Homo sapiens: one gene and its partner. The protein of the gene in region 2 interacts with the protein of the main gene of each other region in a biochemical or structural test. Each region holds a gene or a part of one and is shown on either strand. Other genes may lie near its edges.

Evidence for each region.
Region 1: the proteins of PTPN18 (region 2) and PSTPIP1 form a complex in vitro, tested with the Homo sapiens proteins (2 studies listed by BioGRID and IntAct).

Annotation. Positions count from the first base shown.
Region 1 is NC_000015.10:76,993,431-76,997,340, forward strand, and holds the start of PSTPIP1 (proline-serine-threonine phosphatase-interacting protein 1), read left to right. Parts: upstream 1-1,695; 5' UTR 1,696-1,974; coding exon of another isoform or gene 1,975-2,143; coding exon 2,144-2,179; intron 2,180-3,910. UniProt on the Homo sapiens protein: Involved in regulation of the actin cytoskeleton. May regulate WAS actin-bundling activity. Bridges the interaction between ABL1 and PTPN18 leading to ABL1 dephosphorylation.
Region 2 is NC_000002.12:130,372,775-130,375,934, reverse strand, and holds the end of PTPN18 (tyrosine-protein phosphatase non-receptor type 18), read right to left. Parts: intron 3,063-3,160; coding exon 2,988-3,062; intron 2,779-2,987; coding exon 2,711-2,778; 3' UTR 1,270-2,710; coding exon of another isoform or gene 1,254-1,269; 3' UTR 530-1,253; downstream 1-529. UniProt on the Homo sapiens protein: Differentially dephosphorylate autophosphorylated tyrosine kinases which are known to be overexpressed in tumor tissues.

The DNA of each region.
Region 1 (3,910 bases), on a different chromosome or scaffold from region 2:
GGGAGCCTTGAGGTTGGCTTTGAGGGTGGGAGGATTTGCCCAGGTAAGGAAGATCAAGGAAGGCTTGCCAGAAGGGAGGCTGGGAACAGAGCAGGTGGGAGTGGGAAAGGTGCCTCCAGGGAGAGGGAAGAGGCCTGGCTGGAGCAGAAGTCTCTGGGAGGTGATGGGAAGGACACCTAGAGAGGCAGGGCAGGGAGCCCAGCTGTAAAAATTTCTGCCAATAAGCAGGCAGGAGCCTTCTGTTAACAGAGGGTCTCTAGTCTGCTCCAGACCTAGAGGCATCATCCCATCTGATGGATGGAGAAACTGAGCTCAGGGAGGCTGAGCCAGTGCTATCAGAGGTGGTGGTGCCATTGGGAGGTGAGGTGCAGCCTGGCTCACTCTATGGCCTACAAAGTTCAAGGGGATTTTTACACTATTAATTGTCTTCAGCTGCAAGTAACAAAAAACCTGACTGGGGCGCCTTACAGATTAAAGATTAGCTCAAATCCAAGGTTTCTGGAGGTGAGGGCCTTCTGGGGGCAGTCCCATTGCTCTGCAATCCTCCCCAAAGTGTTTCCTCTTGGGTGGCTATTTCAGAGCCTGGGTGTGCCCCCTCTCTCTAAACCCTGGGCATGCATAATGGGCACTTGGGAGCTCAACTATTTCATCTGCAGCAGCTCTCATCTTATCACCCCGTCAGCTGTAAGGCAGACATCAGTGAGGGTGGTGATTTGCGGACAATCCCTGACTCACCCCATTTTGCCAGCCTGCCCTGGGCTCAGGACTTCCTGCTGCATCTTCTGCTGAGCCGGCAGGGCGTGGCGTCTCAGGGCTGGGGCTGGGGCTCTAGTCCAGGGCTCTTCCTAAGGTGGTACCACACAGTGCCCCCAGCACCTGCCCACCAAACTGGAAATTCCAGAAATATTCTCGACACCGTCTACTTTCCAAAGACTGGGTGTGGCAGATGAGGAAGCTGAGGCTCAGCGAGTTGGGGGGTCTATTAAGGTCCCTCAGCCCCTGAAAGGTGGGGTCAAAATTAAACAAAAACTGGGCCTCAGACTGGGTTTCCAAACACCCCACTCTGTGCCTTGATAATCCTGTTTCTCTCTCCATCCATTCCCATTCACTGAGCCGGAAGCCTCCATCTTCAGAAGGGGGTTCTCTGCCCCAAACAGCGTCTAATCTGGAGACTTGCGGTGGTGGCGGTGGTGGTGGTGGGGGCAGTGCCGGGGCCTCAGGCTGTTCTCCCTCATCTTGCTGCCTGCTCACCTTGCCTCTGTGTGCTCACAGCCCCCCAGAGCACAGCTGTGTCTGCTCCCAGACTATGGGCTCCTTGAGGGCAGGACCTGGTTTGGGTCCCAGAGCAGCCAGGGTTTGATGAATGACAGATGCCCTAGACCTGGGTAAGCCCCTCCAGAATGACTTGCTAGTGCGGGGTGGGGAGTCTGGCATCTCTGGGCCCAGCCTGGAAGGGTGCTGGACTGGCTGGCGGGTGACACACCTGGGGTTCCTGGGCCCCTCCTGGCCACACTGTCAGTGGGCCTCAAGCTCCCTTAGCATATGGCCTCTGGAATAAAGTGAGCCCGCACCTCGGGAGGGGGCAAGCAGAGGCAGGAGCAGGATGGCAGGTGGCAGGCGGGGCTGCACAGGGGAGCACAGCAACTCCACTTCCTGTGGGCGAGGGCCCTGTGCCTGCCCCGGGGGAGGTTGCACAAACCTTCCTGCGCAGGCCTCGGGCTGCCTGCCTGCCTGCCTGCCTGGCCCGGCCCGAGCTCCAGCCTGCCTCTTCCACTGGCCACTGCCTCCCACCCAGGGCTGGCATCCCTGCTCCCTGCCCTGGGTCCCAGACTGTGTCCTCCATCACCGCAGGGTCGGTGAGGGGCTGGGCTGGACACCAGGGCCCGCCCTCCCATCACTGAGCTCCACTCCTTCCTCATTTTGCTGCTGATTCTAGCCCCAAACAAAACAGGTTGAGCTTTTTCCTCCCCTCAGAAGCTCCTCTCTGGCTCGTGGCTGCCTTCTGAGTGTTGCAGACGGCGCCGGCCGGGAAGGGGGGCCTGGGCCAGCCCTGCCAGGACTGGGACGCTGCTGCTGGCGCCTGGCCCTCCATCAGGCCAGCCTGTGGCAGGAGAGTGAGCTTTGCCGCGGCAGACGCCTGAGGATGATGCCCCAGCTGCAGTTCAAAGATGCCTTTTGGGTGAGTGAGGATGGTTGGGGGCACTGAACAAGTGGAGGGGGCAGAGCTAGGCTGAAATCTCCATGCAGGTGATGGGATGCGGCTCCGAGAGGGGAGCTTTCTCATAAAATAGTGGTTGATTCTTGGTCTTAATTGTCATGGAGGTGGCCCAGGCCCCCACCCCTTCTGGACTGGAACGCAAGTGGACTCCGTGAATGAGCGTCCTCCTCTCTGCTGCCCCGTGTGTTTTCTCCTCTGGGAGACCTCTCCCCACAGCAGGAGCTCCTCAGAAGAGGGTAACACATGGGTGGGGGCTTGAGGAGGATGTGTGGGGCAGCAAAGGAGGGGTCACAGATTTAGAGACCAGACAAACTTGAGTTCAGGTCTTGGCTCTGTTACAGGCTGGGCAAGTCATTTCTGTCTCCAAGCCTCAGTCTCTCCATCTATATAATGGTGATAAAATAGAAATCAACACACCAACTAAAGCATTGGATCAGCAAGGGGATCCAAGGCACTAAAGCCCCCAGCACCTTGCCTCACTCCAAATGGTAATTCTGTTCCCCTCACCCAGCCCCTTGTCCCTTGCAGACCTTAGGGGTCCTTCAAGGAGGCAGCCAGGTGGGCAATGGCTTGCTTACTTTCTTAAATTCAACACGGGCTTAAATCAAGTCATTTCCCCCATGAAATAAGGGCGCCCAGCCAGTGGTAGAGGTAAAGTGGCTTGGCCCGGGCCACGTAGCCTGCAGCCCAGCTTGGACCCCTGGTCATCTCAGCACTTTTCCAGCTGTCCTTCAACTACCCCTCTGCCCCTCAGCTCTGGCTGTGCCCAGGGCTCTGGGGAAAAACTGAGACCTCTCTGGTTGGAGCTGGGGAATGTGGCTGTCCCGGGGTGCTGCCTCCAACCCCGAAGAGGACGCTCTGGCCCTCGGCTCAGCCGGCTGAGCCCCAGCCAACAGCCCTGCCCTCCCCGGGCCTTTTCCTGGGGCTGCAGCCAGGAGGATGAGAGCTATGGAGCCAGGCCTTCCTTCCCTTCCGGCCGGCTCCACTTGGGGCCTGTGGCCAGCGTGTGAGTGTTCTGCTTCCTCTGCTCTGACTGTACAGTAGGCAAAGGACCCCACGTGGGGAGGGCACCTTGTGCCTTTCTGGGCCTCAGTTTCCCCATCTCTACAAAGACAGGGTGGGCCCAGCCCAGAGAAGCCAATGGAGGCAGAGCTGCCTCAGCCCATCCGGAGGACCAGGCACCAGGATGCTCAGGGCCCAGGCTGGCAGCTGGAGCCCTGGGGGATGGGGGATGTGAGTCACCACCTAGCTGCCCTGCCTTGGTGTGCAAAGTTGGGGGAAGGGGTAGGGCCTGGAAACCCAGGCCACTCTGTAGCCCAGGGCAGGCCAGGACCCCTTGACTATTTTATCACTGAGACCTCTGTCCAGTCCTAGAGCCCCTGGGCCTGCCTTCCCTAGGGCAGAGCTGGGCAAGGAGCAGCCTCCATGGCAGGATCTGGGCACAGGTAGGGGTGGCGTATAAGGGAGCAGGGTATGGCAGCCGCAGCAGAAGCAAGCAGCCAGCCCCTGTGGAGCTTCCTGAGCGGCATCCTGCCCACACTCTGTGCTCGTCGCACCTCTGGGCTTCCTGGCCTCCAAGTGCCTTGTCTCCTCTGTGTCTGGCTCCCTGAGCCTGGGGCGGGCATATAGTTTCCCTAGGGAAGGCCAGAGCAGGAAGGGGAGAGAAGTAGCCAGTGGGAACCTCTCACACTG
Region 2 (3,160 bases):
AATCTAGGAGAAAAGTATCCAAGGCAGAGAGAATAACCAGGGCAAATGCCTGAGTGGAAACTGTGCTTGCCATGCTGGGCCAGGAGTGAGGCTACTGGGTGTGAAGTCAGAAACCAAGAAGGCGCAGAGACTGGACCCTCCTCGCATGCTGACAAGGTGGCCTGCACAGCTCCACATCACATGCACATGTGTATAAAACACCAGACCAAGGCCGGGAGCAGTGACTCACGCCAGTAATCCCAGCACTTCGTGAGGCAGGGGCAGGTAGATCACGAGGTCAGGAGTTCGAGACCAGCCTTGCCAACGTGGTGAAACCCCATCTCTACTAAAAATACAAATATTAGCTGGGCATAGTGGTACACGCGTTTAATCCCAGCTACTTGAGAGGCTGAGGCAGAAGAATTGCTTGAACCTGGGAGGCGGAGACAGAGGTTGTAGTGAGCCAAGATTGCGACATTGTACTCCAGCCTGGGCGACAGAGCAAGACTCCATCTTTGGGGAAGAAAAAAAGGAAAAACAGACCTCTGAATCGGAGAAATGGACAGTTTATTACTCACAGTGAACACAGCAGCCAGAACAGTATCTTTAGTCACTTTCCCATGCCCCTATTCCCAAGAAGAGGGCATGTGGATCGTACCAGCTGGGCAGGCAGTGGGTCTGCATCCCAGGAGAGGGACCCGAAACTGGGAGACTTGGAGATTTTATCAGGGCTGTGGAGGACCTGCCTTTCTTCTCCTCCAGAGATAGATGACTCATTATCCAGCAACACAGAGGTCAGCACCGACCTCACCAGCAGCAGGCTCACAGGAGTGGCAGGGGCATTGGGAGAGTGGGAGGCAGCACAGGGTCAGCTCTTTCACGAAAACAGAGAAACGGGGCAGCTCTAGAGTGGGAGTAGGGGCACAGAGAACAGGAAGGAAAGGCGGCCGGCGAAGGTATGATATCACACCAGCTCCCACTGTGGGCACCCAAACCCAAGCCTCCTGGGAAAGTCTGGGAACTGTTAAAAATCCACACCTCAGCATCACCCTGCCAAGGGGTGGGGTGGGGTATGTACACATCCCCATCATTCCTTGATTGAAGGCTGCAGGAGAGTGGAGTTCATGCCAAGGCACTTGAGATCGACCATGGATGCAGCCAGGCAGAGGCAGAGGAAGGCCAGCCCTATCCCAGAGAAGGGCAGGACAGGGGTGGACATGGGGCCCAGGGCACTGTGGCAGTGCATACAGGGACCTGGGCAGGCACAGTGTCAGTCAGAGGTCCAGAGACCTGAAAGTGAGAGGGGCGGGACCCTTGAGGTTCAGGGAAAGAGCATCTTATACTTTTTCCATTTTGCAGTGACTTGGAGATTTGTCCACACCAGTGCACAGAGACGTGTCCTCCTTTTATTTCTTTTAACAGCCGCTTAATGTTTTATCCTAGCAGGAACCCTACCATGGGCCATTTAAAGTGTTTCAAATCTTAGGGGGCTGAGCCTGGTGGCTCACACCTGTAATCTCAGCACTTTGGGAGGCTGAGGCAGGAGGATTGCTTGAGGTTGGGAGTTCAAGACCAGTCTGGGCAACATGGCAAAAACTCATTTCTTAAAAAAAAAAAAAATTAGACCTGTAGTCCCAGCTACTCGGCAGGCTGTGTGAATAGTAAGGGGTCAGTCTGGTTGGGAGTCTGTCTGGCGGGGGTCTGGCTGGGGTCTGCCTAGATAGGTCCTGATTTGCTGGGGGTCCATCTGTCTGAATAGCTGGAGATGTGTACTCATTTGGGGGACTTGTCTGTCAATCTGGAGGATCATGTCTGACTAGCTGGGGTCCATCCATCAAGACATCAAGATGAGAGTCTGGCCGGCTGGCTGGGATGTCAGGATTCCATGTGGCTGATGTCTGCCTGTCTGGCAGTCCATCTGGTTGGTTAGGAGTCTGTCTGGCCAGAAGGTCTGTCAGCCAGCCAGCCCACCTGAGGGTGGGGGTGGGGTCTGAGAACTCTGTGTATCTGTTCAGCAGGGGATCTGTTTATATCTGTCTAGTAATCTAACTTAGGGGGTCCACCTGGCTGTCCAGCTAGCAGAGATGTCTGTCTTTTGGGGGCTCTGTTTGGTGGTCTCTCTGGCTGCACTGGTCTATCAAGCTGTTGGCTGGTCTCTCTCTCTCTGGCTGGGGATCCCTTTGTCCACCTGTGGACTGTATCTCTGAAGCTTTGGCTGTCTGTCCAGGTTGGTGGTCCATCTGTCTGTCTGCCTATCTGGAGGTCTTTTTATCGGTCTGCCTGGGGTTAATCTGCTTGGCTGTGGTTATGCCTGGCTTAGTTCTGCCTGGATGGCGAAGTGTCCATCCACTTCTCTGTGTGGTCCCCTGAGTGTCCAAGTGAGGGAGGCTCAGGTGCTGAGGATGGACTAGTGCTGTGTGGTGAGGAGAGCAGTCTCCGGAAGCTCATCTGTCCCTTCTCCCCTTCATAACTCAGGGGTCATGCCCCTTCCTGATCTTCTTTCTTGAATCTGCTCTGTGCAGCCTCACCAGCCACTATACCCTAGCTACCTCCTCCAGCCTCAAGCCTTGAATGCTACAGTCATTGGGGCAAAGCCCCCACATTTCCCACCCTGAGAAACTTTAACTTTGATCCAGGCCCACTGTTTCCATTCTGCGCACGGCGCTCAGCAGCACCGGGGCATCAGCAGTCCGAGCTCACAAGAGGCAACAGGCAGGAACTGGCGTTAGACTTACACCCGGGTCCACTCAGCAGGCGGGTCCCGGGGACCCTTCGGCCTCCCAATGCGCAGGTTGAAACCTGGGAGAAGAAGGGTGCCGTGGGTCTCATGGAGAAGCTGAGGTGTGTGGAAGCTGGCAGACATGAAGAAGGCCATCCCCCCGCCTCCAGGTCCTCCTGGTTCACTGCAGCCACATCCACAGGACTAAGCTCCATGCCCCATCAACCCCAGACTCCTGGGTTCACTCAAAGCAGCAAAGTCCCAGCAACCCAGGCTCTACCTGACTTACCTAGCCCACCGGTCTGAGCTCCACCCGCCACGTCCTCGTAGGCGCCAGATCCGGCAGGACTTTGGTCAGCAGGAACTGAGGGCAGCAGACCCCCCACGGGTCAGCTCCGGAAGCCCCAGGGAGTCCCAAGACCCCACCCCTAGCGGGGACGCTTCCCCGGAGGCCCGAAGGGG